Regions from separate parts of the Homo sapiens genome. Here all the other regions are linked to region 3. Evidence: fine-mapped expression QTL. A gene starts in region 3. Each other region holds a variant in brackets. All regions are shown on one strand. Distances are between the middles of the regions.

The links. PIP is the estimated chance that this variant, and not a neighbour inherited with it, causes the effect.
Region 1: its variant is fine-mapped to the expression of PIH1D1 in whole blood (INTERVAL, PIP above 0.99).
Region 2: its variant is fine-mapped to the expression of PIH1D1 in whole blood (TOPMed, PIP 0.96).
Region 4: its variant is fine-mapped to the expression of PIH1D1 in whole blood (INTERVAL, PIP above 0.99).

The regions. Positions count from the first base shown.
Region 1 is chr19:49,699,854-49,708,113 of GRCh38, forward strand. It overlaps CPT1C (carnitine palmitoyltransferase 1C), which reads left to right. Exons shown (of 20, transcript NM_001199753.2): 5 at 831-1,002; 6 at 1,464-1,565; 7 at 1,644-1,781; 8 at 4,857-4,934; 9 at 5,154-5,261; 10 at 5,361-5,445; 11 at 6,056-6,251; 12 at 6,378-6,560; 13 at 7,665-7,770. Among named protein-coding and RNA genes, the nearest start is that of CPT1C, 13 kb to the left of the region's middle. The variant A/G (reference allele first, on the strand shown) is at 4,553.
Region 2 is chr19:49,514,017-49,522,276 of GRCh38, forward strand. It overlaps FCGRT (Fc gamma receptor and transporter), which reads left to right. Exons shown (of 7, transcript NM_001136019.3): 3 at 1-117; 4 at 195-470. Among named protein-coding and RNA genes, the nearest start is that of FCGRT, 5.5 kb to the left of the region's middle. RefSeq lists an enhancer at 155-868. The variant C/G (reference allele first, on the strand shown) is at 3,950.
Region 3 is chr19:49,450,312-49,458,432 of GRCh38, forward strand. It overlaps PIH1D1 (PIH1 domain containing 1), which reads right to left and starts at 1,503. Exons shown (of 9, transcript NM_017916.3): 1 at 1,174-1,503; 2 at 471-537. The coding sequence starts at 1,263. It overlaps ALDH16A1 (aldehyde dehydrogenase 16 family member A1), which reads left to right and starts at 2,914. Exons shown (of 17, transcript NM_153329.4): 1 at 2,914-3,110. The coding sequence starts at 3,021. RefSeq lists enhancers at 1,131-1,809, 1,434-1,713, 1,724-1,773, 3,507-4,466.
Region 4 is chr19:49,692,394-49,698,781 of GRCh38, forward strand. It overlaps CPT1C (carnitine palmitoyltransferase 1C), which reads left to right. Exons shown (of 20, transcript NM_001199753.2): 4 at 4,933-5,072. Among named protein-coding and RNA genes, the nearest start is that of CPT1C, 4.5 kb to the left of the region's middle. The variant A/AT (reference allele first, on the strand shown) is at 1,694.

The DNA.
Region 1 (8,260 bases), 250 kb after region 3:
TGAGGTAGGAGAATTGCTTGAACCCAGGAGATGGAGGTTGCAGTGAGCCGAGATAGTGCCACTGCACTCCAGCCTGGGCGACAGAGTGAAACTCCATCTCAAAAACAAAACATGCCGGGCGTGGTGGCTCACGCCTGTAATCCCAGCACTTTGGGATGCCAAGGCAGGCGGATCACGAGGTCAGGAGATCAAGACCATCATGGCTAACACGGTGAAACCTCATCTCTACTAAAAATAACAACAAATAGCCGGGCGTGGTGGTGGGCACCTGTATTCCCAGCTACTCCGGAGGCTGAGGCAGGAGAATGGCGTGAACCCAGGAGGCGGAGCTTGCAGTGAGCCGAGATAGCACCACAGCACTCCAGCCTGGGCGACAGAGCGAGACTCCATCCCAAAAACAAAACAAAACAAAAAAAAAAACGCTGATTGCTGGACCCCACCCTGAGAGATTCTGGCTTGTTAGGTCTTAAAGGCGCCCAGGAATATGCATTTCGAACAAGCTCCCAGGCAGTGCTCCCAGGAGCCACAGTTTCAGAACTATTGCCTTAGAGTAGTGATAGCTGGAAGGAAAAAGTGTCCCCTCAATAGAAATAATGGCTGTCATTTATTAAACACCTACCAACTTCCATGGAAAGTGACTTTGGAAGCTTGGTGCTGCCACAATGGGAGGGGGCTGGAGGGGGTGACAGAGCTCACACCTACTAAAATGACAAAAATGGGTTTCTCTGTCTGACAGCCAAAAGATCAGCGCAGGGGCTGGAGGGGGCTGGAAGGGAGGGAGGTTCTGAGGCCAGGAGACCCAGGCCCAGCCTCTGTTTCTCTCCCCGCAGGGGTGGACAACACCACGGGCTCCGGGGGGTCCTGGCAGCCGCGCTGTTTGCCTCGTGTTTGTGGGGAGCCCTGATCTTCACACTGCACGTGGCCCTGAGGCTGCTTCTGTCCTACCACGGCTGGCTTCTTGAGCCCCACGGAGCCATGTCCTCCCCCACCAAGACCTGGCTGGTATGGGAGGGGCATAGCCCTGCTCAGGCTCTCCTGGGACCCGCTTATCTATTCCCCTCTCTCTGGGTCTCTGTCCCCCTCTCTCTGGGTCTCTGTCCCTCTCTCTCTGGGTCTCTTCCCCCTCTCTTTCTGGGTCTCTGTCCTCCTCTGTCCCTGGGTCTCTGTCCCCCTCTCTCTGGGTCTCTGTCCCCCTCTCTCTCTGTGTCTCCGTCCCCCCCTCTGGGTCTCTACCCCCGACTCTCTCTGGGTCTCTGCCCCCCTCTCTCTCTGGGTCTCTGTCCCCCTCTCTCTGGGTCTCTGTCCCCTGTCTCTGGGTCTCTGTTCCTTTCTCTCTTGGGGTCTCCGATGCTCTTAAGTCTCTGTGTCCTTCTCTTTGGGTTTCTGTCCCACTGTCGACCCCTGCCCCGTCAACTCCCTGGCTCCGGTGAGGGGTTAATGACCCGGTAACTCCTCCTCCCCAGGCCCTGGTCCGCATCTTCTCTGGCCGCCACCCGATGCTGTTCAGTTACCAGCGCTCCCTGCCACGCCAGCCCGTGCCCTCTGTGCAGGACACCGTGCGCAAGGTGGGCCTGGGAGCGCGCAGACGGGCTGGGGCGGCCGGGGCGGGCCGGGGGCGTGACCTGCCCTCTTCTCCCCTTTAGTACCTGGAGTCGGTCCGGCCCATCCTCTCCGACGAGGACTTCGACTGGACCGCGGTCCTGGCGCAGGAATTCCTGAGGCTGCAGGCGTCGCTGCTGCAGTGGTACCTGCGGCTCAAGTCCTGGTGGGCGTCCAATTATGTGAGTCCCGCCACCGCCACCAACGCCCCACCTGAAGGGCTAAGGTTGTGAGCTCGCCTGCTAAACTTGCGAGTTATACGCCCTGCCCCACGACACGCCCACAACCCACACGCCCCCAGCCCCCAAGGGTCAATACCCTGAGCCCCGCTCACATACATCTATATCCTAACCTCCACATTTATATATATATAAAAATATATATGTATATATATTTATTTATATATAAATATATAGTGTATATATAAATATATATATTTATTTATAAATATATATATTTATATTTATATACAAATATTAATATTTATAAATTTATATATAAATATATTTATATATAAATTTATAAATAAATATATAAATATTATAAATATATTAAATATATTTATTTATAAATTATAAATATATATTTATTTATAAATTATAAATATATATTTATTTATAAATTATAAATATATATTTATTTATAAATTATAAATATATATTTATTTATTTATAAATTATAAATAAATATATATTTATTTATAAATTATAAATAAATATATATTTATTTATATATAGGCTTATATATTTATTTATATATATATGCTCATAACATATATATGCTCTCTCTATATATTTAATGTTGAAGTTTGGGGTATAGATGCTCCAGTATTCTGAGCTTCACCCTTGATCTTCCAAAGTTTGAACCAGAATTCCAGGACTTAGCCCTGGTGCAATGTCTCACGCCTGTAATGCCAGCAGGTTGCGAGGCCAAGGCAGGCGGATCACGTGAGGTCAAGAGTTCAAGACCAGCCTGGCCAACATGGTGAAACCCCGTCTCTACTAAAAATACAAAAATTAAACAGGTCTGGTGGCGCACACGCCTATAATCCCAGCTACTCGGGAGGCTGAGGCGGGAGGATTGCTTGAACCCAGGAGGCAGAGGTGGCACTGAACTGAGATCGCGCCACTGCACTTCGGCCTGGGCCACAGAGCAAGACTCTGTCTCAAAAAAAAAAAAAGAAAAGAAAAAAAAAAAGACAAAACCAAAGGAGTTGAATGGTGAGGAGTGGTGGGAGAGGCCTGAACTCCAGACTGAGGATCCTGGACTCTTTCCTGGGGGTACTAGGGAGCCATGGGAGGGTTTGGAGCAGGGAAGGGGCAGGGTCAGCTTTGGTGTGGGGGAAAGACTGGAGGGCGGGAGGCTGCAGAGGAAGCTACCGTGAGACCTACCATTGTAGGTCATTGAGACACTGGGCTGGGATGAGAAAAGCTGCAGCAAGAGTGAGAGGGGAAGGGAAGAGGGTCCCCGGCAGAGCCCCACGAGGCAGCTATGTGGAAGCCTCAGTTGGTCAAACCCAGCGAAGGGGACGAAATATCTGGAGAAGTAAAAGGGAATGCAGGCCTTGCTTTTCTGGTTAAATATTTTTTTCTTCACACTTTTGGACAAGATTCTGTTTACACACACACACACACACACACACACACACTCATTTCTTTCTTCCCTTCCTTCCCTCCCTCCCTCCCTCCTTTCCTACCTTCTTTCCTGCCTGCCTGCCTGCCTTCTCTCTCTCTTTCCTTCCTTTTTTTCTGTCTCCTTCCTTCCTTTTTTTCTTTGAGATGGAGTCTCACTCTGTCGCCCAGGCTGTAGTGCACTGGCACCGTCTCAGCTCACTGCAAGCTCTACCTCCCAGGTTCACGCCATTCTCCTGCCTCAGCCTCCCATACCTGGCTAATTTCTTTTTTTTTTTTTTTGTATTTTTGTATTTTTAGTAGAGATGGGGTTTCACCGTGTTAGCCAGGATGGTCTCGACCTCCTGACCTCGTGATCCGCCTGCCTCGGCCTCCCAAAGTGTTGGGATTTACAGGCGTGAGCCACCATGCCCGGCCTCTTTCTTTCTTTCTTTCTCTATCTTTCTCTCTCTCCCCCTCCCTCCCTTTCTGTCTCTCTCTCCTCCCTCCCTCCCTCCCTCCCTCCCTCCCTCCCTTCCTTCCTTCCTTCCTTCCTTCTCTCTTTCTCTCTCTTTCCTTTTTCTTTCTTGGAAGGGGTCTCACTCTGTCACCCAGGCTGTAGTGCAGTGGCGTGATCAAAGCTCACTGCAGCCTTGACCTCCCAGACTCAAGCCATCCTCCCATCTCAGCCTCCTGAGTAGCTGGGACTACAGGCATGTGCCCCTAAGCCTGGCTAATTTTTAAATTTTTTGTAGACATGGGGTCTTGCTATGTTGCACAGACTGGTCTCAAACTCCGAGGCTCAAGCTATCCTCCCACCTCAGCCTCCCAAAATGCTGAGATAAGAGGTGTGAGCCACTGCGCCCAGCCTGTATATTTTATTGTACCTCCAAGCCAACTGCCAGTGACACACGCACCATTTTTTTATGTACAACAACAACAACAAAAAACCCTACAAGAGCAGCTAAACCGTGACACAGTGCTTTCTTTTGTGTTTTTCATTGTTTGAATTTTATCATGGTATTGGCAAGGCCACAATTTTCATGTATTTACACATATGTATATTATTTCACATATTTATTGTTTTATAAATTTTACATTTATGTTCTGTTTTTCTTTTTTGGGGGGGACGGAGTTTCACTCTTGTTGCCCAGGCTGGAGTGCAATGGTGCGATCTCAGCTCCTTGCAACCTCTGCCTCCCCGACTCAAGCGATTCTCCTGCCTCAGGCTACCGAGTAGCCGGGATTACAGGCGTGCACCACCACGTGTGGCTAATGTTTGTATTTTTAGTAGAGACAGGGTTTCATCATGTTGGCCAGGCTGGTCTTGAACACCTGACCTC[A/G]GGTGATCCACCCGCTTAGCCTCCCAAAGTGCTGGGATTACAGGCGGGAGCCACCGTGCCCAGCTGTACCTTGTTATTTCCACCAGCTATGTAATATTCCACTGCCGGAGTATAACAGGGTTTAGCTAACTGATCCCCCATGGATGGATTTCTAGGTGATCGCTAGTTACTGACTACGATGGCTGACTTCTTTGGCTCTATCCTCCCTGCCTGACGCAGGAGCATCTGGGGCCTTCCCTGTCCTACTGTCCCTCCCCCAACAGGCCCCAGCCCCTCACTGTGTGTCTCCCCACCCCGCTCCCAGGTCAGTGACTGGTGGGAGGAATTTGTGTACCTGCGCTCCCGAAATCCGCTGATGGTGAACAGCAACTATTACATGATGGTGAGAAGGGGAGGGGTGAGGTTCATAGGCCCCAGGTCTAGGGTTGGGGGGTACCTGGGCGGAATGTGACGGTCATGCTCAGTGACCTGGATCTAGACGCGCCATCTGGGATTCATCATTCCACCCTCTTTTGGGGTCAGGACCTGTATTTGGGTCAGTGGCTCCATCGGGGGCAAACCTGACCCTGGGTGTTTTGCCATCCCCTCTCCTGGTCCCCAGGACTTCCTGTATGTCACACCCACGCCTCTGCAGGCAGCTCGCGCTGGGAATGCCGTCCATGCCCTCCTCCTGTACCGCCACCGCCTGAACCGCCAGGAGATACCCCCGGTGAGAGGGCCCCAGTGGGTTAGGGATGGAGGTGTGGTCCTGTGGCCTTTGGGCCACGTGGGTCCTGGAAGGCAGCTCACAGCCCACGGTTTCCTGCAGACTTTGCTGATGGGAATGCGCCCCTTATGCTCTGCCCAGTACGAGAAGATCTTCAACACCACGCGGATTCCAGGGGTCCAAAAAGGTGAGACCCTCTCCTGTCCCCACTGATGGAGGCAGAACAATATAGTGGCTAAGAGCATGTTTTCTGGAGTCCGCCTGACTGAGCTGGGAACCATTGCTTCCTTGCTGTGTGACCTTCTGCACGTTATTACCCTCTCTGAGCCTCAGCTTCCACTAAAGTGGGATAATAATTGTACCTAGGGGCTGGGCGCAGTGACTGATGCCTGTAATCCCAGCACTTTGTGGGGCCGAGGTGGACAATTGCTTAGGCCAGGAGTTCGAGACCAGCCTAGGGCAACGTAGTGAGATCCGGTCTATATACAAAATTTAAAAATTAGCCAGGCATGGTGATATGCACCTGTGGCCCCAGTTAATCGGGAGCCTGAAGTGGAAGGATCACCTGAGCCCCGGAGGTTGAGGCTGCAGTGAGCTGAGATCTCACCACTGCACTCCAGCCTGGCGACAGAGCGAGACCTTGTCTCCAAATACTAAGTAAATAAAAGTCCTAGGGTGCTGATGATTACTAGGGTACTTTGAACAACTGACGACACCTAAGAAGTATATAATAAATGGTCACTATTTTTATGTGTCTGGCCTTCCTGCCCCCATGCTTCTGCCAACGCCACCCCTAGACTACATCCGCCACCTCCATGACAGCCAACACGTGGCTGTCTTCCACCGGGGCCGATTCTTCCGCATGGGGACCCACTCCCGAAACAGCCTGCTTTCCCCGAGAGCCCTGGAGCAGCAGTTTCAGAGAATCCTGGATGATCCCTCACCGGCCTGCCCCCACGAGGAACATCTGGCAGCTCTGACAGCTGCTCCCAGGTAAGGGTCAGGGGTCAGGGGTCAGGGGCTCTCAGAGGCCGCCAGTGTCCTGAGACTGTGGAAGGGCAGGGTGGGGCCAGGTGGCGGCTGGGCAGGATGGACTCAGGCACATCCCGGGCCCTCCAGGGGCACGTGGGCCCAGGTGCGGACATCCCTGAAGACCCAGGCAGCGGAGGCCCTGGAGGCGGTGGAAGGGGCCGCTTTCTTTGTGTCACTGGATGCTGAGCCCGCGGGGCTCACCAGGGAGGACCCGGCAGCGTCGTTGGATGCCTACGCCCATGCTCTGCTGGCCGGCCGGGGCCATGATCGGTGAGTGAGTCTTGGGATGGGGCCCCCAGATGTGGCACCCGAGAATCCAGTATCAGACCTAGGACCCCTGACAGTAGACAGCCAGACCCTGGAGCCCACACCTGCAGAGTCTGTAGACCAGGGGCTGCATAGAGCTGAGGACCCCAGACCCAGTGCTTTGGGACCTGGAGACCTCTGACCTGGGGAACCCCTCAACCTGGGACCCAAGACCTATAAACCAGACCCAGTGACCCCCAAATCTGAGACTCCCAAACCCCTGAGCTGGACCCTCCGACCCAGAGAACTCAGCATCACAGACCCAGAGACCCCAGATCTGAGGACCACCAAACCCAGGACCCCTAGGCCCAGGGACCCCAGACTTGGCAACCTCAGCCTCAGAACTTGAACCATTCAATCCTCAGGCCTTAATGCAGGCACCCCAAATCCATGGCCCTAGACCCAGACTTCCAGACCTAGAGATTCTCAGGCCTGGCAGGCATCACTGAATTCCTAGGCCCCAGGGGGGTCCCGCTGACCTCCCAGCACCCCCAAAAGCCTTGAACCTTCCTCGGCAAGTTTCCTAAAAATCTCCAAACTCCAGACTGGGCATGGTGGCTCATGCCTGTAGTCTCAGCACTTTGGGAGGCTGAGAGGGGCGGATCACCTGAGATCAGGAGTTTGAGACCAGCCTGGCCAATATGGTGAAACCTCATCTCCACTAAAAATGCAAAAATTAGCTGGGCATGGTGGTGCATGCTTGTGATCCCAGCTACTTGGGAGGCTGAGGCGGGAGAATCACTTGAACCCTCAGCTACTTGGGAGGCGGAGGTTGCAGTGAGCCGAGATCGCGCCACTGCACTCCAGCCTGGGCGACAAGAGTGAAACTCCATCTCAAAACAAACAAACAAACAAAAAAACAATCTCCAAACTCTAAATCCCAGACATGTCTTGGAGACCTCCAGGGCCACTACTGGGGACCCCCAATGGTCCTAGAGATCCCCATACCAGCACCCCAATGGATTCCCACATCTTCCCATCTAGAAAACCCCCTCAAGTCCCACAGAAAGCACTCTGAGGTCCCCGTGCCCCTCGCTCTTGGTGACCCATCTGAACTCTCCCTGACAGCTGGTTTGACAAATCCTTCACCCTAATCGTCTTCTCTAACGGGAAGCTGGGCCTCAGCGTGGAGCACTCCTGGGCCGACTGCCCCATCTCAGGACACATGTGGGAGGTAGGGCGGCCAGCCCTCCCTGGTTCTGGGGACCCCTGCCCCATCTCCAAAGACCGTCCTCTCCAGCGCCTTAGTGTCAGAAGAAAAACTGAGGCTTGGCCGGGCACGGTGGTTCATGCCTGTAATCCCAGCATTTTGGGAGGCCGAGGTGGGCGGATCATGAGGTCAGGAGTTCGAGACCAGCCTGGCCAACATAGTGAAACCCTGCCTCTACTAAAAATACAAAAAAATTAGCCAGGCATGGTGGTGTGTGCCTGTAATCCCTGCTACTCGGGAGGCTGAGGCATGAGAATCGCATGAACCCGGGAGGTGGAGGTTGCAGTGAGCTGACATTGTGCCACTGTACTTCAGCCTGGGCGACAGAGCAAGAATACATCTCAAAAAAAAAAAAAAAAAAAAAAAAAGAAAAGAAAAACTGAGGCTCAGGGAGAGGCAGAGGCTGGCCCAGGGTCACCTGGCAAAGAAAGGGGACTGGGATGAGGACCTTCCT
Region 2 (8,260 bases), 64 kb after region 3:
CCTGTGGAGCTTGGGTCTGGGAAAACCAGGTGTCCTGGTATTGGGAGAAAGAGACCACAGATCTGAGGATCAAGGAGAAGCTCTTTCTGGAAGCTTTCAAAGCTTTGGGGGGAAAAGGTGAGATTCCGGTCTGGAGGGGCAAGGGGCCGGGTCCATGCTCCGGGGCCCCGCTTACCTGTGTTTGGGCGCCCCAGGTCCCTACACTCTGCAGGGCCTGCTGGGCTGTGAACTGGGCCCTGACAACACCTCGGTGCCCACCGCCAAGTTCGCCCTGAACGGCGAGGAGTTCATGAATTTCGACCTCAAGCAGGGCACCTGGGGTGGGGACTGGCCCGAGGCCCTGGCTATCAGTCAGCGGTGGCAGCAGCAGGACAAGGCGGCCAACAAGGAGCTCACCTTCCTGCTATTCTCCTGCCCGCACCGCCTGCGGGAGCACCTGGAGAGGGGCCGCGGAAACCTGGAGTGGAAGGGTGAGCCGGATCTGCAGCCGCAGGCTGTTCTGTCCTCTCTCCCGTCATGCCCACCTGCCTCAGTTCCCCTGCCAGGACCCTCCATCAGCCTCCCACTGCAGCCCACGCTCTGCCCCCCCATTCCTCAGGGGTCCTTCTACACTCAGCCCTCCCATGGCTCCCCAGCGCCCCCCAGGACAAACTCCTGGCTTCCTTCCTTGCCTTCTTTTTTTTTTTTTTTTTGTGAGACGGAGTTTCGCTCTTGTTGCCCAGGCTGGAGTGTAATGGCGCGATCTCGGCTCACCACAACCTCCGCCTCCCGGGTTCAAGTGATCTCCTGCCTCAGCCTCCCGAGTGGCTGGGATTACAGGCATGCACCACCATGCCCGGCTAATTTTGTATTTTTAGTAGAGACGGGGTTTCTTCATGTTGGTCAGGCTGGTCTCAAACCCCTGACCTCAGGTGATCCGCCCACCTCAGCCTCCCAAAGTGCTGGGATTACAGGCATGAGCTACTGCTCCTGGCTCCCCCCTTTTTTTTTTTTTTGAGACAGATTCTCGCTCTGTCACCCCAGGCTGGAATGTGGTGGCACCATCTCGGCTCACTGCAGCCTGAACCTCCCAGGCTCAAGCAGTCCTCCCACCTCAGCCAACCAAGTAGCTGGGACCACAGCCCAGCATCATCACACCTGGCTAACTTTATATTTTGTAGACACGGTGTCTCACTATGTTGCCCAGGCTGGTCTTGAACTCCTAGGCTCCAGCGATTCTCCTGCTTTGGTCTCCTGAGTAGCTGAGATTACAGGTGCATACCACCATAACTGGCTAATTTTTTTTTTTCCGCACAATCTCTGTTGCCCAGGCTAGTGTGAAGCAGGGTGATCTCAGCTCGCTGCAACCTCCGCCTCCTGGGTTTAAGGGATTCCGCTGCTTCAGCCTCATGAGTAGCTGGCACTATAGGCACATCCACCATGTCTGGCTAATTTTTATACTTTTAGTAGAGATGGGGTTTCGTCATGGTAGCTAGGCTGGTCTCAAACTCTTGACCTCAAGTGATCCACCCACCTCCGCCTCCCAAAGTGCTGGGATTACAGGAGTGAGCTACCGCGTCTGGCCATACCTGGCTAATTTTTAAAATTTGTTGTAGAGGTGGCATCTCACTATGCTGCCCAGGCCAGACTCAAACTCCTGGCCTCAAGTGATTCTCTCACTTTGGCCTCCCAGGGTGCTGGGATGACAGGTGTGAGCCACTGTGCTTGGCCTTCCTTGCCTTAATGTCCTCATCAGACCCACGCAGCAGCACTTGTCTCTACGCAGCCATCAGAGTCTACGCTCCAGCCACCCAACATAAGCAATCTCCTCCCTCTGGGCATTTGCTCATCCAGTTTCCCCTGGCACCTCTCTGTTCCACCCTTCCCCCTCTCTGCATATACTCCAGCCCTCCTTATTCTTCAAGGTCAGGGCTGGATATCACTTCCTCTGAGAAGCCTTTCCTCAGCTCTGTAGGGCAGAGTTCACTGTTTCCTCCCCGGAGGCCCCCAGATCCCCACTCATTCAACTGTTGGCCAAGAGCATTTGCACTGCCAGGCGCTGCTCTGGGCCTTGAGCAAAGAGGGAAGTGACACACATTCACCCTCTGTGGCTCCCAGGCTGCTGGACAAAGATAGATACCAGCTGGGGATGTGCACAGATATTCATTCCAAGTGCCACAAAGGAGAAGTTGAGACTCAACCAGGTAGTTTTTCTTTAATTGTCTTCTTTCTTTCCTAAGTAGGGAAAATTTCTTTCTTTTTTTGAGACAGAGTTTCGCTCTTGTCGCCCAGGCTGGAGTGCAATGGCGCGATCTCGGCTCACTGCAACCTCCGCCTCCCAGGTTCAAGTGATTCTCCTGCCTCAGCCTCCCGAGTAGCTGGGACTACAGGCGTGCACCACCACGCCTGGCTAATTTTTGTTTGTTTTTTTTTTTTTAGTAAAGACAGGGTTTTACCATGTTGGCCGGGATGGTCTCGATCTTTTGACCTCGTGATCTGCCTGCCTCGGCCTCCCAAAGTGCTGGAATTACAGACGTGAGCCACTGCTCCTGGCCTTTGTTGTTGTTGTTGTTGTTTTTGAGACAGACTCTTGCACTGTCGCCCAGACTGCAGTACTGTGGCGCAATCTTGGCTCACTGCAACCTCCGCCTCCCAGGTTCAAGCAATTCTCCTACCTCAGCCTCCCGAGTAGCTGGGATTACAGGCACACACCACCATGCCTGGCTAATTTTTGTATTTTTAGTAGAGACGGGGGCTTCACCATGCTGGCCAGGCTGGTCTCGAACTCCTGATCTCGTGATCTGCCTACCTTGGCCTCCCAAAGTGCTGGGATTACAGGCATGAGCCACCACTCCTGGCTTAAGGAGGGAAAGTTTCAAACCACACTTAAGTAGAAACAATAGTATAAAACGGACCAGACACGGTGGCTCACGCCTATAATCCCAGAACTTTGGGAGGCCGAGGCAGGTGGATTGCTTGATCCCAGGAGTTCAAGACCAGCCTGGGCAACATAGTAAGACCGCATCTCTACTAAAAACTCAAAAAATTAGCCTGGCATGGTGGTATGTGCCTCTAGTCCCAGCCACTGGGGAGGCTATGGCAGGAGGATCGCTTGAGCTCAGGAGTTTGAGGCTGTAGTGAACTGATTGCAACTCTGCACTCCAGCCCAGATGACAGAGCCAGACCCTGTCTCAAAAAGAAAAAAAATATGGTGGCCAGGTGCAGTGGCTCACGCCTGTAATTCCAACACTTTGGGAGGCCGAGGTGGGCAGATCACTTAAGGTCAGGAGTTTGAGATAAGCCTGGCCAACAGAGTGAAACCCCATCTCTACTAAACATACAAAAATTAGCCGGGTGCGGTGGTGGGTGCTTGTAATTCCAGCTATTCGGGAGGCTGAGGCAGGAGAATCACTTGATCCCGGGAAGCAGAGGTTGCAGTGAGCCGAGATCAAGCCACTGCACTCCAGCCTGGGCAACAAAGCAAGACTCTGTCTCAAAGAAAGAAGGAAAGAAAGAGAGAGGAGAGGGAGAGAGAAAGAGGAAGGAAAGGAAGGAAGGAAGGAAGGAAGCGAGCATCCCATCACTGAGACTTAATAATTATCAACCCATGGTTTTTTGAATTTCACGCACATCCTCACTCACTTCCCCACCCCACTTCACATCAAGCTTTGGTAAATCTCAGACATCACAGTGTTTTTTTCTTTGTTTGTTTGTATTTTGAGATGGAGTCTCACTCTGTCATGCGGGAGTGTAGTGGCTCAGTCTCGGCTCACTGCAAGCTTCGCCTCCCAGGTTCAAACAATTCTCCTGCCTCAGCCTCCTGAGTAGCTGGGATTACAGGTGCCCGCCACCTCGCCCAGCCAATTTTTGTATTTTTAGTAGAGATGAGGTTTCACCATATTGGCCAGGCTGGTCTTGAACTCCTGACCTCGTGATCCACCCACCTTGGCCTCCCAAAGTGCTGGGATTA[C/G]AGGCATAAGCCACCGCGCCTGGCCAATTTTTGTATTTTTAGTAGAGACGGGATTTCACTATGTTGGCCAGGCTGGTCTCGAACCCTCCACCTCAAGTGATCTGCCCTCCTCAGCCTCCCAAAGTGCGGGAGTCACCGTGCCCAGCCAGACTGTTTTGTTGATAAGTCCTTTAGTATGTAACTCTACTAGGTAAGGGCATTTAAAAAAAATTAATACCAAAACCATCATCACACCTACAACCAATTAACTCTTTAATGGCATCAGATGTCCAGTTTTTGTTCCCATATTCCTGACTGTAAATGTTTTTTAAAGTTTGAATCAGCATCCAGCAAGGTCCACACATTTTGTTGTCTTTTCAGTGTCTTTTTCTGATTGTTGAATTTTTCTTTCTTTCTTTTTTTTTTTTTTTTTCCTTTTTGAGACAGGGTCTTGCTCTGTCACCAGACTGGAGTCCAGTGGTGCAATCATAGCTCACTGCAGTCTGAACTTCCTGGGCTCAAGTAATTCTCCCACTTCAGCCTCCCCAGTAGGTAGGACCACAGGTGCACGCCATCAGGCCTAGCTATTTTTGTTTGTTTGTTTTTTGAGACAAAGTCTTACTCTGTCGCCCAGACTGGAGTGCAGAGGCACGAACTCGGCTCACTGCAACTTCTGCCTCCCGGGTTCAAGCAATTCTCCTGCCTCAGCGTCCCAAGTAGCTGGGATTACAGGCGCAAGCCACCACGCCCTGCTAATTTTTTGTATCTTTAGTAGAGACAGAGTTTCACCATGTTGGCCAGGCTGGTTTCGAACTCCCGACCCCAGGTGATCCACCCACCTCGGCCTCCCAAAGTGCTGGGATTACAGGCGTGAGCCACCGCGCTCGGCCGTATTTTTGTTTTTTTCTTTTTTTTGGAGACGGAGTCTCGCTCTGTCACCCAGGCTGGGGTGCAGTGGCGCGATCTCAGCTCATTGCAACCTCCACCTCCCAAGTTGCACCAATTCTCCTGCCTCAGCCTCCCGAGTGGCTGGGACTACAGGCGCCCACCACCACGCCCGGCTAATTTTTTGTATTTTTAGTAGAGACAGAGTTTCACTGTGTTAGGCAGGATGGTCTCGATCTCCTGACCTCCTGATCCGCCTGCCTCAGCCTCCCAAAGTACTGGGATTACAGGCTTGAGCCACCGCGCCCGGCCGGATTCCAATTTTTTACCAGATAGGTGTTTTGCAAATATTTCTTCCACTCTCTAGGTTGTCTTTTCATTGTTTTAACTGTGCCTTTCACAAAGCAAAAGTTTTTAACTTTGATGAAATCCAGTTTATTCTTTTTTTTTTTTCTATCGTGGATTATGCTTTTGGTGTTTAATCTCAGAAGTAATCACCAAACCCAAAGTCAGCTAGATCTTCTCCTGTGTATTTTAAGAGTTTTAAAGTTTTGCATTTTACAGTTAGGTCTGTGATTCATTTTCAGGTAATTTGAGTTACTTGTGATCTTGAGTGTCTTTTGATTTACAGGTTTCCCATTTTCTTTTTGTTTTTTTTCCCCCTGTAATTGTGGTTTGAAGAAAGTCAGTTTATGTCCTATTGAGTTTCTCCTAGACTGGATTTTGCCCTTTGCATCCTGTGATGTTGCTGGAAATAGTCCTCCTTCTCTTCTTTAAAGGAGCAGCTCCATCTAGAAGCTTGGTCAGATTCTGGTTCAATTTTTATGGCAAGAAAACTTTCTGGGTAGTTGGTGCGTATGTCTGTGTGCATAGGCTGCAAACATCTGCTTGCTTCTGTGCTGTTCTGTGGACCACTGGATTCGGGTGTTGTTATGAAGTTCTTTGTCAGGTTTTCTCCTGATGGTTTTAGCGGATAGCAATGGCCATTGCCTTAATCTTTTTTTTTTTTTTTTTTTTTTGAGATGGAGTCTTGCTCTGTCGCCCAGGCTGGAGTGCAGTGTTGCGATCTTGGCTCACTGCAACCTCCGCCTCCCAGGTTCAAGCGATTCTGCTGCCTCAGCCTCCTGAGTAGCTGGGATTACAGGTGCGTGCCACCATGCCTGGCTAATTTTTGTATTTTTTTTGGAGAGATGGGGTTTCACTATGTTGGGCAGGCTGGTCTTGAACTCCTGACCTTGTGATCCACTTGCCTCGGCCTCCCAAAGTGCTGGGATTACAGGCGTGAGCCACCGCGCCCGGGCTTTTTTTTTTTTTTTTTTGAGAGGGCGTCTCCCTCTGTCACCAGGCTGGAGTGCAGTAGCACGATCTCGGCTCACTGCAACCTCCACCTCCCAGGTTCAAGTGATCCTCCTGCCTCAGCCTCCTTAGTAGCTGGAATTACAGGCACACACCACCACACCCAGCTAATTTTTGTATTTTTAGTACAGACAGGGTTTCACCATGTTGGCCAGGATGGATTTTTTTTTTTTTTTTGAGATGGAGTTTCACTCTTATTGCGCAGGCTGGAGTACAATGGCATGATCTCAGCTCACTGCAACCTCCGCCTCCTGGATTCAAGTGATCCTCCTGCCTCAGCCTCCAGGGTAGCTGGGACTACAGGCATGCGCTGCCATGCCTAGCTAATTTTTATATGTTTAGTAGAGATGGAGTTTCACCATGTTGGCGAAGCTGGTCTTGAACTCCTGACATCAGGTGATCTGCCTGCCTCAGCCTCCCAAAGTGCTGGGGTTACAGACGTGAGCCACCATGCCTGACCTGGTTTGGTATTTTGTTAAACAGAACCAAAGGCCAGACAGATTTTCTGTGCTTGGATTTAGTCTATATTGGAAGTACCTTGAGGCTGAAGGCACGTGGCTGTGAGCACGACACAGGAAGATACAGATTTGCTGAAAAGAATAGTGAACATAAAGCAGAAGCCAGAACTGCTGATGGCCGTCAGCCCGGTCCCTCCATTCCACCTGACGGTGCAGCAAATTCTGCCGACTTGCCAGAGAGGCAGCTCCAGGAGGGAGAAGCTGCTGTGCTTTCCTGAAGCAGCAAATGTGTTTTCTGCTGAGCAACCAAAACCAAGATCCCAGCCAAGACCCACGATTGCCCAGATCCACCCTCCCTGAAAGGAACTTGGGCAGTAATGCCCAGTCCTAGGCAGTTGCTGAAATCTTTGCCTTTTATTTTCTTTTTTGAGCTGGGATCTTGCTCTGTCGCCCAGACTGGAGTGGAGTGCAGTGGCACAGTCATAGCGCCATGTAGCCTTGGACTCCCAAGCTCAAGAGATCCTCCCGCCTCAGCCTTACAAGTAGCTGGGACTATAGGTACACGTCACCATGCCTGGCTAACATTTTCTATTTTTTGTAGAGATGGGGTATTTGTTGCCAAGGCTGGTCTAGAAGTCCTGGGCTTGGCCGGGCACAGTGACTCACGCCTGTAATCCCAGCACTTTGGGAGGCTGAGGCAGGCGGATCACGAGGTCAGGAGTTCAAGACCAGCCTGGCCAATATGGTGAAACCCTGTTTCTACTAAAAATAGAAAAATTAGCTGGGCGTGGTGGTGTGCGCCTGTAATCCCAGCTACTCTGGAGGCTGAGGCAGGAGAATCGCTTGACCCCAGGAGGCGGAGGTTGCAGTGACCCAAGATTGTGCCACTGTACTCCAGCCTGGGCGACAGAGACTCCGTCTCAAAAAAAAAAAAAAAAAAAGGAAAAGAAAGCCTGGGCGTAAGGATCCTTCTGCCTTGACCTCCCAAGTGCTGGAATTGCAGGCATGAGCCATTGCACCCGGCTTTTTTTTTTTTTTTTCTTTGAGACAGGCACTTGCACTGTTGCCTAGACTGGAGTGCAGTAGCGGGATTAGAGTTCACTGCAGCCTCAACCTCCCAAGCTCAAGCGATCCTCCCACCTTACCCTTCCTGAATGGATGGGGCCACAGGTGTGTACCATCACACGTAGTTAATTTTTAAACTTTTTCAGAGACGGGGTTTCTCCATGTTGCCCAGGCTGGTCTTGAACTCCCGGCTTCCAGTGATCCTCCTGCCTCAGCTTCCCAAAGTGCTGGGATTACAGGCATGAACCACTGCACCCAACCTTTTTTCATTCCCTTAACGAAACCTTTGGATGAACAAAAATTCTTAATTTCAGTGAAGTTCAGTTTATCGACTTCAATTTATACATTTTATAAAGTTTATGAATTTTTTTTTTTTTTTTTAGACGGAGTCTTGCTCTGTCGCCCAGGCTGGAGTGCAGTGGCTATACCCAGGTGTGATCATAACTCACTCCAGCCTCAAACTCCTGGGCTCAAGGATTCCTCCTGCCTCAGTCTCCAGAGTAGGTGGGACCACAGGCACATCCACCACACTGGCTAATTTTTTTTATTTGTAGTGGAGACTACGTCT
Region 3 (8,121 bases):
TGAATGCCTGGCCTCAAGCAATCCTTCCACCTCGGCCTCCCAAAGTGATGGAATTACAGATGTGAGCCACTGTGCCCAGCCTCTCTTCCTATCTTTGTTGTTGTTGTTTGTTTCGTTTTGTTTTTGAGACAGAGTCTCGCTCTGTCACCCAGGCTGCAGTACAGTGGTGCGATCTCCACCCACTGCAACTTCTGCCTCTTGGGTTCCAGCAATTCTCCTGTCTCAGCCTCCCCAGTAGCTGGGACTACAGGCACGTGCCACCGCACCTGGCCTCTTCCTATCTCTGATTCTCTGGCCCCCTACCTACTCCTACTCTGTCCTCCAACTCCTTTCTGTCCTAGGATGATCTCTGTGGGTGTCTGCTCACCCCACCCCCACCCTAGGCCTTTATTTTCGTGTCTCTTTCCTTCCTCCTCTCTCTGTCCTCTCCCTGGGTCTCCTGTCCCTCTCTCTCCGGTGTCCTTTCTCACCAGGCTGAGGCTGGATTTGTGTCGATTCTGGTCTGGTTGTCTGGGCTTGCTGGAGCTCCTTCGAGGCCTGTATAAAGGAAAACTACCTCCAGGCTCGGAGTCTGTGCCATCAGACCCCTCATTTGTTCCTCAAATGGAGCAATTCTTATGCATGAGAGCTGTGGATAACGCGAGAAATTAGACGGTTTAGGTCCCCTTTCTCCTTTGAGAACTAGAAGAACAACCCCAACCCCATTCCCATTTCTTTTTTTTTTTTTTTTTTTTTGGAGACGGAGTCTCACTCTGTCGCCCAGGCTGGAGTGCAGTGCCGAGGTCTCGGCTCATTGCAAGCTTCGCCTCCCGGGTTCACGCCATTCTCCTGCCTCAGCCTCTCCAGTAGCTAGGACTACAGGTGCCCGCCACCACGCCCGGCTAATTTTTTGTATTTTTAGTAGAGACGGGGTTTCACCGTGTTAGCCAGGATGGTCTCGATCTCCTGACCTCGTGATCCGCCCGCCTCGGCCTCCCAAAGTGGTGGGATTACAGGTGTGAGCCACCGCGCCCGGCCCCCCACTCCCATTTCTTAGCAAACTTGAAGCCCATTAACCTCAATTCCCCGAGGCCTGGTTCCCGCCTTAGTGCATTCTGGGAACTGCAGTCCCATCTTTGAGCACCCCGCCAAAATCCCCGAATACTCAAGGATCCAGGGGTCCGGTCACTGCACCTGCAGCAGCAGCTCCTCAAATCGCGCCGAATCAGCACCGATCGCCTCCGCCTCGCTTAGCCCCATTCCCAGCAGCTTCGGGTTCGCCATGGCCCTGGGAAAGAGATCTAGGCGTCCTCGAGACCCTCAACGTGGGAAACTTTGCCCAGGATCCGAACCCCAGTGCCTGCTCTGGCCCTCAATCGACTCCGGATACCTACTATCCTGTTCAAAAACCTAAGACTGGCCTAAGACTACATTTCCATTCAAGACCGAACACCATCGTCAAATCCGTGGGGAATATGTGTCTCTAGACGCACTACCCTCCGTCCTACGTGCCGAACTGTAAACGAAGCCACACTTCCGGTCTATCGGTAAACACAGGACTGGAGTATGCCACACTTCCGAGTACCCCAGTGTTCATTCACAAGCTGGTATCGCGTTATCGACAAGCCACGCCCCTCGCATCAATCAAAAATAAACCCCAAGGCGGATCCCTGAGTGCCACACTTCCTGTATCTATGAAAGCCACACTTCCGGCTGGGCGCTGTGGCTCCTACCGGTAGTCCCAGCACTTTGGAAGGCCAGGGCAAGAGGATCGCTTGAGGCCAGGAGTTCGAAACCAGCTTGGGCAATACAATGAGATAACGTCCCACACCCCATCTCTTAAAAAAAAAAAAAAAGCGCCAGACTTCCACTCTTTCCACAACCAAAACTGGCCCCCTTACTTTGCAGTGAAGGTTGCATTTTCCAAACCTTAATCTCAATGTCCATCCTAAAAGGTACCCTTTTTATCTTTGAATTATCACTTCCTGCCAGCTCTAGATCCTAATACGTCCAGATCTAGACCCGCCAGGTCTAGATCTAGATCTAGACCTCTAGTCAATATAATTAGAAAAGCTGCACTTTGAGGCTGGGAGGCCGAGGTAGGAGGATCGCTTGAGCCCAGGAGTTCGAGACCAGCCTGAGCAACATAGCAAGATCCTGTCTCTACCAAAAAAAAAAAAAAAAAAAAAATTAGCCAGGCTTGATGGCACCTGCCTGTAGTCCCAGCTACTGTGCAGGCTGACGCAGGAGTAATGTTTAAACCTGAAAAGTCGAGGCGACAGTAAGCCGTGATCGGACCACTGCACTCCAGCCCTGGGCGACAGAGGGAGACCCTGTCTCAAGAAAATAAAAGGTAAAACAAAACCTGCACTTCCTGCTACTATAAAACAAGGCACTGGGAAGACGCATCAATAGGACGACCCTTTTTTTTTATTACTATTTTTTTTTTAGACACAGTCTCCCTTTGCCACCCAGGCTGGAGTGCAGTGGCGCGATCTCGGCTCACTGAAACGTACACCTTCTGGGTTCAAGTGATTCTCCCGCCTCAGCCTCTTGAGTAGCTGAGATTACAGGCGCGCACCACCACAGCTCGGCTAATGCTTGTATTTTTAGTAGAGACGGGGTTTCACCAAATTGGTCAGGCTGGTCTCGAACTCCCGACCTTAGGTGATCCGCCCGCCTCGGCCTCCCGAAGTGCTGGGATTACAGCCAAGAGCCATCGTGCCCGGCCACGCCGATCCTCATAAATCCGGAGCCCTCCTAACTATTCGCAAAGTACCCACATCGCCGTCTCCCCTTCCTCCCCGTTTTAAGCAGTGCGCATGCTCCTAAATACGCTTCCCCGTGGGGGACGTAGGCGGGGCCATCGGGTCCTAAGGAAAAAGTGTGGGCGTGGCTGCTCTCTGTATCTTGTAGCCCCACCCCATTCCCATTAGCCCCGCCCCTTTGGGCTGGAACCGGAGGTGTCGCTCTTCGGACCTCAAGGTTCCCCTTAACACAGAGCGCCCCGCAGTCTTCGCGGAAAGCGTTCGGGGTAGGCGATGGCTGCGACGCGTGCAGGGCCCCGCGCCCGCGAGATCTTCACCTCGCTGGAGTACGGACCGGTGCCGGAGAGCCACGCATGCGCACTGGTGAGAGTCTGCCCGGCCGGCGCTGCTCGCTGCGTTCCCCAGGCCTGGGCGCCCGGTTTTTCGCGGGGAGTCCCGTCATCCACTGCGGTAGCTCAGCCGCTCCGCCTCTCTTAGTCCCCGTGATTCCCGCCGCCCAATAGGATCGCGCCCTGTAGGACGCTCCCTTGAGCCTTGGCGGTGGCAGCCTTTTAGTCTGTTCCGGTCTTCCCCACTGGTTCTCTTGCCCCTTGATCCTGAACTCCTCGTAGTGTTTCCGCGGTTTTCCTGAACTCCTCTAGACGCTCTCGTGATTCCTCAGGGTCCCCTCAGAACCTGACGCCACCCACCAGACCCCTTAGGATTCCTGTGAGGCTCCAGTGACCCACAACCCCCATTGTCTTTCCACGACTCTTCAAAACATCCTATGGCTTCCATGGGCCTCCAGAGCACCCCAGACCTCCTGAGGGACTCCCTTCATCCCTTTGATTACCCAGAGACCTTCAGAACTTCCATGGAGCCCCCGTGATCCCATAGGACCCCTCAATACTCGTGGGGTTCATGTGACCTCATCGGAACTCTCAGGAGCCTAGAATACATCAGGACTTCCGGTTTGGGTTGGGTTTTTTTTTTGTTTTTTTTTTTGAGCCAGGGTCTCACTCTGTCGCCCAAACTGAAGTGCACTGGCGCTATCACACCACTGCAGCCTCAACCTCCTGGGCTCAAGCCATCCTCTCACCTCAGCCCCCCAAGTAACTGGGACCAGAGACGCGCGCCACCACTCTCAGCTAATATTTGTACTTTTTCTAGAGACAAGGTTTCAGCATGTTGGCCAGGCTGGTCTCGAACTCCTGGCCTCAAGTGATCCACCCACCTCGACTTCCCAAAGTGCTGGGATTACAGGCGTGAGCTACTGCACCCAGCCACATCAGGACTTCCTGTAATTACTTATGGCCCCTCACAATACCCTCACGGGGCTCCTATGATCTCTCTAGCTCTCAGAATGTCCCATAGGGTTCCCATGATTGTTCAGGAACCCCTGAAGTCCTCGTGAGGGTCCCATGATCCCCTGGGGGTCCTCAGAACCTCCCTAGGACTCCCATGACCCCTCAGAGGCCCCCAGAACCCTCGTGGGGTTCCTGCAAATGAGTAGGGCACCTCAAACTTTCTGTCGTTTCCCCAGGCACTCTCAGAATTCCTTCACGGGGCTCTCATGATCCCCCAGGGTCCCCCAGCACCCAGGCGAAAGGAGCTTAGGCTTCTTTGAGGGGGAGGGCAGGAGGCCAGAGCAATGATCCAAGTGGAAGGAACTGGATCAGAACCCTGGCACAGCCTAGAACTTGGGGAGGCCAAGACGGGCAGATCGCCTGAGCTCAGGAATTCGAGACCAGCCTGGGCAACATAGTGAAACCTCGTCTCTACTAAAATACAAAACATTGGGCCAGGCGTGGTGGCTCAGACTTGTAATCCCAGCACTTTGGGAGTCCTAGGTGGGCGGATCACCTGAGGTCAGGAGTTCGAGACCAGCCTGGCCAACATGGTGAAACCCCATCTCTACTAAAATACAAAAATTACCTGAGCGTGGTGGTGTTTGCCTGTAATCCTAGCTACTTGGGAGGCTGAGGTGGGAGAATTGCTTGAATCCAGGAGGCAGAGGTTGCAGTAAGCTGAGATTGCACCACTGCACTCCAGCCTGGGCAACGGAGCAAGACGCTGTCTCCAAAAAAAATACAAAAATGGCTGGGCGCAGTGGTTCACACCTGTAATCCCAGCGCTTTGGGAGGCCGAGGCGGGCGGATCATGAGGTCAGGAGATCGAGACCAGCCTGGCCAAGATGGTGAAACCCATCTCTACTAAAAATACAAAAAATTAGCTGGGCGTGGTGGCAGGCACCTGTAATCCCAGCTACTTGGGAGGCTGGGGCAGGAGAATCGCTTGAACCCAGGAGGTGGAGATTGCAGTGAGCCGAGACCACGCCACTGCACTCCAGCCTGGGCAACAAGAGCAAAACTCCATCTCAAAAAAAAAAAAAAAAAAAAAAGGAAACAGAAAACAAAAGATTAGCCGAGGATGGCAGCACACACCTGTAGTCCCAGCTACCCGGGAGGCTGAGGTGGGAGGATCACCTGAGCCTGGGAGGTGCAGTGATCATACCACTGAACTCCAGCCTGGGTGACAGAATAAGACCCTGTCCCCCCTGAAAAAAAAAGAAGTTGAGGCCAGGCAAGTGGCTCACACCTGTAATCCCAGCAGTTTGGGAGACCGAGGCAGGAGGATCACTCGCACCTAGGAGTTTGAGACCAGCCTGGGCAACATGGTGAGGCCCTATCTCTATTAATATAAAAATAAAACATAAAAAGTGAAGTTGAGACTTGGACTTGAGTCCTTGCATTTCAGACCCGTGGTCTTGCCTACACCAGCAAAGTTCTCAACCGTACAGTCTCTGGGCCAGACTCAACCAACAAACATGTTTTCTTTGGCGTGAACTTTATTTTTTTTTTATGTGAAATGCTGGACAATTGATTCCATGTAAACATCCGGGAGGTCCTCTTGAAAATAAAATTCCAAAATGTGTCAACATTTGGCTCAACTTCCCTGACAAAAGTCATCTGGGACCAATAGCTCCTGTCTTTTCCATGAATCGTTAAGCTCCTCTTCTCATCCAGGCCCTCTTCTCAGGCCTCCTGGAACCCTCTGGACATTCTTTTGGAATTTTGTTTTTCTTTTGGGGGGAAGCTTTCCAACTTGCACAGAATAATTAGCATTTATTTTGAACTCCTGTTTACCCATCACTGTGCCTCAACCATCATCAACATTTATCCCAGCGCTGTTTCCTTCTGTATTTTCTTTGGAGTAATTTAAACAAATCCTGGATGTCACAGTATTTTCCTATAAATATTTGAATCCTTTCTTCTAACAGATAAGGGCTCATTTTGTTACAAAACTACCATGGTCTGTTACCACACTTAACATTAAGTCATTCTTTTTGTTTTTTGTTTGTTTGTTTGAGACAGGATCTTACTCTGTCGCCCAGGCTAGCATTCAGTAGCGTTCATAGCTCACTGCAGCCTGAAACTCCTGGACCCAAGCAATCCTCCCACCCCAGCCTCCTGACTAGCTGAGACTACAAGTGTGCATCATCATGACTGGCAAATTTTTTACTTTTATTTTTGTAGAGATGGGGTCTTGCTGTGTAGGTCCAGACTAGTCTCAAACTCCTCAGCTCAAGCAATCCTCCCGTCTCAGCGTGGGAAAGTGCAGGGATTACAGATGTGAGCTACCATGCCCGGCCAACAATCATTCTTTAATGTCATCTGATGCCCAGTTCATGTTCAAATATCCCTGACTTTCTCACAGATGTCTCTCTCCCTGTGGGCGTTTGAGTTTGGAACTTCTAAGTAACTTTTTTGCTTTAAAGAGAAAGGAGAAGCCAGGCACAGTGGCTCATGCTTGTAATCCCAGCACTTTGGGAGGCCGAGGCGAGTGGATCACCTGAGGCCAGGAGTTCGAGACCAGCCTGGCCAACATGGTAAAAACCCATCTCTACTAGAAATATATAAATTAGCTGGGCATGGTGGCGGCCGCCTGTAATCCCAGCTACTTGGGAGGCTGAGGTAGGAGAATCACGTGAACCCAGGAGGCGGAGGTTGCAGTGAGCTGAGATCGCACCATTGCACTCCAGCCTGGGAGACAAGAGCAAGACTCCATCTCAAAAAAAAAAAAGAAAGAAGGGCCAGTAAGAGAAAAATCAGGAATATGTGACATCAGAGATGCTAGGGGAGTCTGTAGAAGGAGCAAGTGAGCAGTGTGCTTTGGATTTAGCATCAGGGAAGACGTGACCAGGATGAGAAAGAAATATGGAGGAGAAGTCCGGGCGCAGTGGCTCACGCCTGTAATCTCAGCACTTTGGGAGGCCGAGGCGGGCGGATCACGAGGTCAGGAGATCAAGACCATCCTGGCTAACACAGTGAAACCCCATCTCTACTAAAAATACAAAAAAATTAGCCAGGCGTGGTGGCAGGCGCATGTAGTCCCAGCTACTCGGGAGCCTGAGGCAGGAGAATGGCGTGAATCCAGGAGGCGGACCTTGCAGTGAGCAGAGATCGCGCCACTGCACTCCAGCCTGGGTGACAGAGCAAGACTCTGTCTCAAACAAAAAAAAAAAAAAGAAAGAAAGAAATATGGAGGAGATGTGGTGAGTGAGATGTGGTAAAAAAATTTTTTTTCTTTGAGACAGAGCCTTGCTCTGTTACTCAGGCTGGAGTGCAGTGGCGTGATCTTGGCTTACTACAGCCTCTACCTCCTGGGCTCAAGTGATCCTCCCACCTCAGACTCCCAGGTAGCTGGGACTACAGGCACTCACCACCACACCCGGCTAACTTTTTGTATTTTTTGTAGAGATGAGCTTTCACCATGTTGCCCAGGCTGGTCTTGAATGCCTAGGCTCAGACCACCTCGGCCTCCCAAAGTGGACTCCAAATAGGTGCCACTGTTGTGGCACCAGCCCAAGGACTCAGTTGAGACCCTAATTGAATGAATTAAAGATGTTGACACATCCATAATCCCAGCACTTTGGGAGGCCAAGGCGTGCAGATCACTTGAGGTCAGGAGTTCAAGACCAGCCTGACCAACATGGTGAAACCCCGTCTCTACTAAAAATACAAAAACAAAACTAGCCGCATGTGGTGGCGGGCGCCTGTAGTCCCAGCTACTCAGGAGATTGAGGCGGGAGAATAGCGTGAACCCAGGAGGCGGAGCTTGCAGTGAGCTGAGATCATGCCACTGCACTCCAGCCTGGGTGACAGAGCAAGACTCAGTCTCAAAAAAAAAAAATGAAAAAATGTTCTAGAACTAGAGTGGTGATGGTTACACAACACTGTAAATGCACAGAATGCCACTAAACTGCTGAACTATACACTTTGAAATGCTCTATTTTACCACAAACTTTTTTTTTAAAGCAATAGGAGGAAAAGAATTAGCTGATGGGGCAGAGGGAGACAGACGTCCCCTCCTAGAGGATTCTGGGTAGGGGTTG
Region 4 (6,388 bases), 240 kb after region 3:
GTGAGGAGCGGTGCTGGTCGGTTTCCTTCCGGGGATCCAGGTTTCTGCTTCCGGGATGTCTGAGGCTCACTTCCGGCATTTCAGCTGGTTCATTTCTGGGAGACTATCACCCCTTTTTCTTAGAATTTTGATGTCTGCTCCCAGGACCCCTTTAGCAATTTCTCCGTGGCTCACTTCTGGGATCCACAGCCCCACCTGCTGAGAACCTCTGCTCACTTCTTTCACCCAAGAGGGGAACTGGGCCCCCCAAAAACTACCCACTTCCAGTTTCTAGAACTCCATATCCTTCCCTTATGGTGAAATTATCATTTCTTCCTTTCATCTCCAGCTTCTTTTGTAGTTGTTGTTTCTGAGACACAGTCTCACTCTGTCGCCCAGGCTGGAGTGCAGTGGCGGGATCTCAGCTCACTGCAACCTCCGCCTCCTGGGTTCAAGCAATTCCCTGCCTCAGCCTCCCAGGTAGCCGGGATTATTGGCGCACGCCACCATGCCTGGCTTATTTATTTATTTATTTATGAGACAGAGTCTCACTCTGTTGCCCAGACTGGAATGCAGTGGGGTGATCTTGGCTCACTGCAACCACCTCCCAGGTTCAAGCGATTCTCCTGCCTCAGCCTCCCGAGTAGCTGGGATTACAGGCATGGATTATACGCCCAGCTAATTTTTGTATTTTTAGTAGAGACGGGGTTTCAACATGTTGGCCAGGCTAATCTCGATCTCCTGACCTCAAGTGATCTGCCTCCCAAAGCGCTTGGGTTACAGGAATGAGCCACCGCGCCCGGCCCAAACTCCTGCTCTGTCCCTGTTCTGGAATGCGCATGCCCAATGTGTAACCAGCACCCATGTCTGTCCCAGGGTTTCTGGTTCTAGAACTCTTGCACTGTCTCCATACAGGGACTCCCTGCTTGTCACATCCTCTGTGTGTGAACTGGGGTCTGGAACACCTGTGGGGTCATGATTGAGTTTGAATCCTGACTCCACCGCTTAGTAGCTGTGTCATCTTGGGCAAGCACCTCTCTTGGAGTCGCAGTTTCCCCTCGTGGAAAACATGGGTGTTGACAGCACCTCCCTCACAGGATAGCCTTGAAGACTAAATTAATTCTTCTATGTCCTGGCCCATGGCGAGGTCTGAGTGTTAGCTTCTGATATTGTTCTTCATTCATTCACCATATATTTATGGGGCATCCGGTAAGGGCCTGGCCCTCTTTAGCATGGAGAACACAGCAGATATCAACAGACAGAATCACGCCTGGGCACTGCGGGCTCACGGCTTTAATCCCAGCACTTTGGGAGGCTGAGGCAGGAGGATCACTTGAGCCCAGGACTTGGACACCAGCCTGGACAACATAGGGAGACCCCATCTCTATTAAAAAAATAAAGACAGGTCGGGCACGGTGGCTCATGCCTGTAATCCCAACACTTTGGGAGGCTGAGACGGACGGATCATGAGGTCAGGAGATCGAGACCCTTCTGGCTAACACGGTGAAACCCCGTTTCTACTAAAAATACACACACACACAAATTAGCCTGGTGTGGTAGTGGGTGCCTGTAGTTCCAATTACTCAGGAGGCTGAGGCAGGAGAATGGCGTGAATCCGGGAGGCGGAGCTTGCAGTGAGCCAAGATGGCGCCACTGCACTCCAGCCTGGGCGACAGAGCGAGACTCCGTCTCAAAAAAAAATAAAATAAAATAA[A/AT]AAATAAATAAATAAATAAATAAATAAATAAATAAATAATAAAGACAGAATCCTGCTTTTATAGAGTTCTCATTCGAGTTGGGGGAGAAGGCAATAAAACAGATGAGCAAAACAGAAGGCAATAAAACAGATGAGCAAAATATAGGGTATGGTGACATTCTATAGTGTCATCTGATATTGATGGTGACACATGCTATGGTGAATGATAAATCGGGTAGAGAAGAGTGATGTGGGGGTGTTGCAGTTAAATAAGGGGGTGGCAGGCCAGGTGCGGTGGCTCACGCCTGTAATCCCAGCACTTTGGGAAGCCAAGGCAGACAGATCACGAAGTCAGGAGTTCAAGACCAGCCTGGCCAATATAGTGAAACCCCATCTCTACTAAAAATACAAAAATTAGCCGGGTGTGGTGGCAGGCACCTGTAATCACAGCTACCTGGGAGGCTGAGGCAGAAGAATCACTTGAATCCAGGAGGCAGAGATTGCAGTGAGCCAAGATTGCGCCACTGCACTCCAGCCTGGGTGACAGAGCAAGACTCCGTTTCAAAAAAAAAAAAAAAAAAGGGGGTGGGAGCCGGCGGCCAGGAGGATCTCCTGAAGCTGGGATGCTTCAGCAGGCTAAACTGAACCTCTGTGGTCTTGTTGGTTGTATAATCTGTTCCAGTTGGCAAACAGCCACTGCCTTGAACTCCGAATCCCTCTCCCGCCCTTACCCTGGGACTCCTTGGGCCTCAGGCCAGTCTACCAACTAAAGTGTTAACATGTGACCATCCTTGGCCAGGCATGGTGGCTCACGCCTCTAATCCCAGCACTTTGGGAGGCCGAGGCGGGCAGATCACGAGGTCAGGAGATCAAGACCATCCTAGCTAACACAGTGAAACTCCGTCTCTACTAAACATACAAAAAAATTAGCTGGGCGTGGTGGCAGTCACCTGTAGTCCCAGCTACTTGGGAGGCTGAGGCAGGAGAATGGCGTGAACCCAGGAGGCGGAGCTTGCAGTGAGCCGAGATCGTGCCACTGCACTCCAGCCTGGGCAACAAAGCGAGACTCCGTCTCAAAAAAAAACAAACATGTGGCCATCCTTTTCGTGTGTTTAAATACATACATACATAGATACATACATATTTATAGACCTATAAATATATACATGCACACACATATATATGATAACATTACATGGAGAAAAATGCACAATTTTTTTTTTTTTTTTTTTTTTGAGACGGAGTTTTGTTCTTGTTGCCCAGGCTGGATTGCAATGGCATGATCTTGGCTCACTCCAATTTCCGCCTCATGGGTTCAAGCTATTCTCCTTCCTCAGCTTCCCAAGTAGCTGAGATTACAGGTGCCTGCCACCAGGCCCGGCTAATTTTTTGTATTTTTAGTATAGACAGGGTTTCACCATGTTGGCCAGGATGATCTCGAACTCCTGATCTCAGGTGATCCACCCGCCTTGGCCTCTCAGAGTGCTGGGACTACAGGCATGATCCACTGCACCTGGCCTTTTTTTTTTTTTTTTTTTTTGACATGGAGTCAGTCTGTTGCCAGGCTGGAGTGCAGTGGCGTGATCTCGACTTACTGCAACCTCTGCCTCCTGGGTTCAAGTGATTCTCCTGCCTCAGCCTCCAAGTAGCTAGGACTACAGGCGTGTGCCACCACGCCAAGCTAATTTTGTATTTTTAGTAGAGACGGGGTTTCACCATGTTGGCCAGGATGGTCTCGATCTCTTGACCTCGTGATCCGCCCACCTTGGCCTCCCAAAGCACTGGGATTACACGCATAAGCCATTGCCCCTGGCCTTTTTTTTGAGACAGCGTCTCACTCTGTTGCTGTTGCCCAGGCTGGAGTGCAATAGCAGGATCTTGGCTCACTGCAACCTCCATCTCCTGGGTTTAAGCAATTTTTCTGCCTTAGCCTCCTGAGTAGCTGGGATTATAGGTTCCCACCACCACGCCTGGCTAATTTTTGTATTTTTAGTAGAGATGGGGTTTTGCCATGTTGGCCAGGCTGGTCTGGAATGCCTGACCTCAGGTGATCCACCCGCCTAGGCCTCCCAAAGTGCTGGGATTACAGGCATGAGCTACTGCGCCCGGCCAAACCCCAGTGTTTTCATTTGTAAAATGAGATCATCTTAGTACTTATTTCACATGGTTTGGGGAGGATTTAAATTGTTAATCCTTGTAAATGGCACCTGGAATGTAGTAAGTGCTCATTAAACGTTAGTTATCTCTCTGAGGCTTCCAAAGGAGTTTAGTTAGTAACGCAGTGCTGTTGGTCGTTCCTCATTCATTCCATGCCCTGGTACTTCTAGAAGGCCTTACTGAGCTCCAGACCCTGCTCTGAATAGGGATCATTTTTCTTTTTCTTTTCTTTTCTTTTTTTTTTTTTTTTTTGAGACAGGGTCTTACTTACTTTGTTACCCAGGCTGGAGTGCAGTGTCACCATCACAGCTCACTTCATCCCTGAACTCCTGGGCTCAAGCGATCCTCCTGCTTCAGCCTTCCAAGTAGCTGGGACTAAGGTGTGTGCCACTGCGCCTAATTTTTTTTTCTTTCTTTTTTTTTTTTTGGAGACCTTGTCTTGCTCTGTCACCCAGGCTGGAGTGCAGTAGCGTGATCTTGGATCACTGCAACCTCAGCCTCCCGGGCTCCAGCGATTCTCGTGCCTCAGTCTCCCAAGTAGTTGGGATTACAGGTGCCTGCCACCATGCCCGGCTAATTTTTGTATTTTTACTAGAGACGGATTTCACCATGTTGGCCAGGCCAGTCTTGAACTCCTGGCCTCAAGTGATCCGCCTGCCTCAGCCTCCCAAAGTGTTGGGATTACAGGCGTGAGCCACCGCTGGTCTTGAACTCCTGGGCTCAAGGGATTCTCCTCCTTGACCTCCCAAAGTGCTGAGTTTACAGGAGTGAGCCACCACATCCGGACTGTTCTGCCTTTGACAGCCTCCCCTTCCAGGTCCTGCCTCAGAATATCCTCCTCCAGGGAGCCCTCCCTGATGCCCTCGAACTGTAACTTGGCAGCACAGGGCTCCTCCTATTTCTTGCCCTATAGCAATTAATACTTACTTCATTCTGGTCTGACCTCGCTGAGGGCAGGACCTGGATCTCTCTGTTCCCTACTAGATCTTGAGCCTCCAGCTCAGGGCTCCGCACTGGGTGCTCAGTAATGTCTGGGGATGGCACAGAACAGGGGCTCAGAGGAGAGGGCAGATGATTCAATGGATGCCCTTTCCTCCCCACAGAATGACTTTCTCACCGGTGTGTTTCCTGCCAGCCCCCTCAGTTGGCTTTTCCTCTTCAGTGCCATCCAGCTTGCCTGGTTCCTCCAGCTGGATCCTTCCTTAGGACTGATGGAGAAGATCAAAGAGTTGCTGCCTGACTGGTGAGGTCCCCCCACTCCAGCCCAGTAACCCCCAATCACTCTCCCTTCACCCAGTAAGTTCCTCTGTCATTGTGGTGTACCTGCTAAAGAAAAGTAACCTCTGAGACTTACATTGGGTCAGATTAATAAAGGCATGGCATGAAGAAAAAGGAGGTGAGGCCGGGCACAGTGGCTCACCCCTGTAATCCCAGCACATTGGGCATTGGGAGGCTGAGGTGGGTGTATCGCTTGAGGTCAGGAGTTCGAGACCAGCCTGGCCAACATGGTGAAACCTTGTCTCTACTAAAAATACAAAAATTAGGCCAGGCATGGTGGCTCATGCCTGTAATCCCAGCACTTTGGAAGGCTGAGGCACGTGGATCAACTGAGATCAGGAGTTCAAGACCAGCCTGGCCAACAGGGTGAAACCCTGTCTCTACTAAAAATACAAAAAATTAGCTGGGCGTGGTGGCAGGAGCCTGTAATTCCAGCTACTAGGGAGGCTGAGGCAGGAGAATCGCTTGAACCCGGGAGGTGGAGGTTGCAGTGAGCCGAGATTGCGCCATTGCACTCCAGCTTGGGTGACAAGAGCGAAACTCCATCTCAAAAAAAAAAAAAAAAAAAAAAGGTGTGAGCTTTGCTGGGCACAGTGGCTCATGCCTGTAATCCCAGCACTTTTGGAGGCCAAGGCAGGAGGATCACTTGAGCCCAGGAGTTTGAGACCAACCTAAGCAACATGGTGAAACCCCGTCTCTACTAAAAATAACAAAAAATTAGCCAAGTGTGGTGTCACTTACCTGTGGTCCCAGCTACCCAGGAGGCTGAGGTGGAGATCACCTGAGCTCAGGAGGTCGAGGCTGCAGTGAGCTGAGATCATGCCACTGCATTGCAGCCTGGGCAACAGAGTGACACCCTGTCTCAAGAAAAAAGAAAAATAGCCAAGCATGGTGGTTTACACCTGTAATCCCAGCACTTTGGGAGGCCGAGGTGGCCAGATCACCTGAGGTCAGGAGTTTGAGACCAGCCTGGACAACATAGTGAAACCCCGTCTCTACTAAAAATACAAAAATTAGCCGGGTGTGGTGGTGCGCGCCTGTAGTCCCAGCTACTCAGGAGGCTAAGGCAGGATAATCACTTGAACCCGGGAGGCGGAGGTTGCGGTGAGTCGAAATTGTGCCACTGCACTTCAGCCTTGGTGACAGAGCGAGACTCTGTCTCAAAAAAAAAAAAAAAGTATGAGCTTTGCCCGTCTCTAGTCATGTAGTCTTAGGCAAGGATCTCATCGTTGTTGATTGTCAAGGCCTTCATCTGTAAAATGAGGTATGAATAATTGCTTC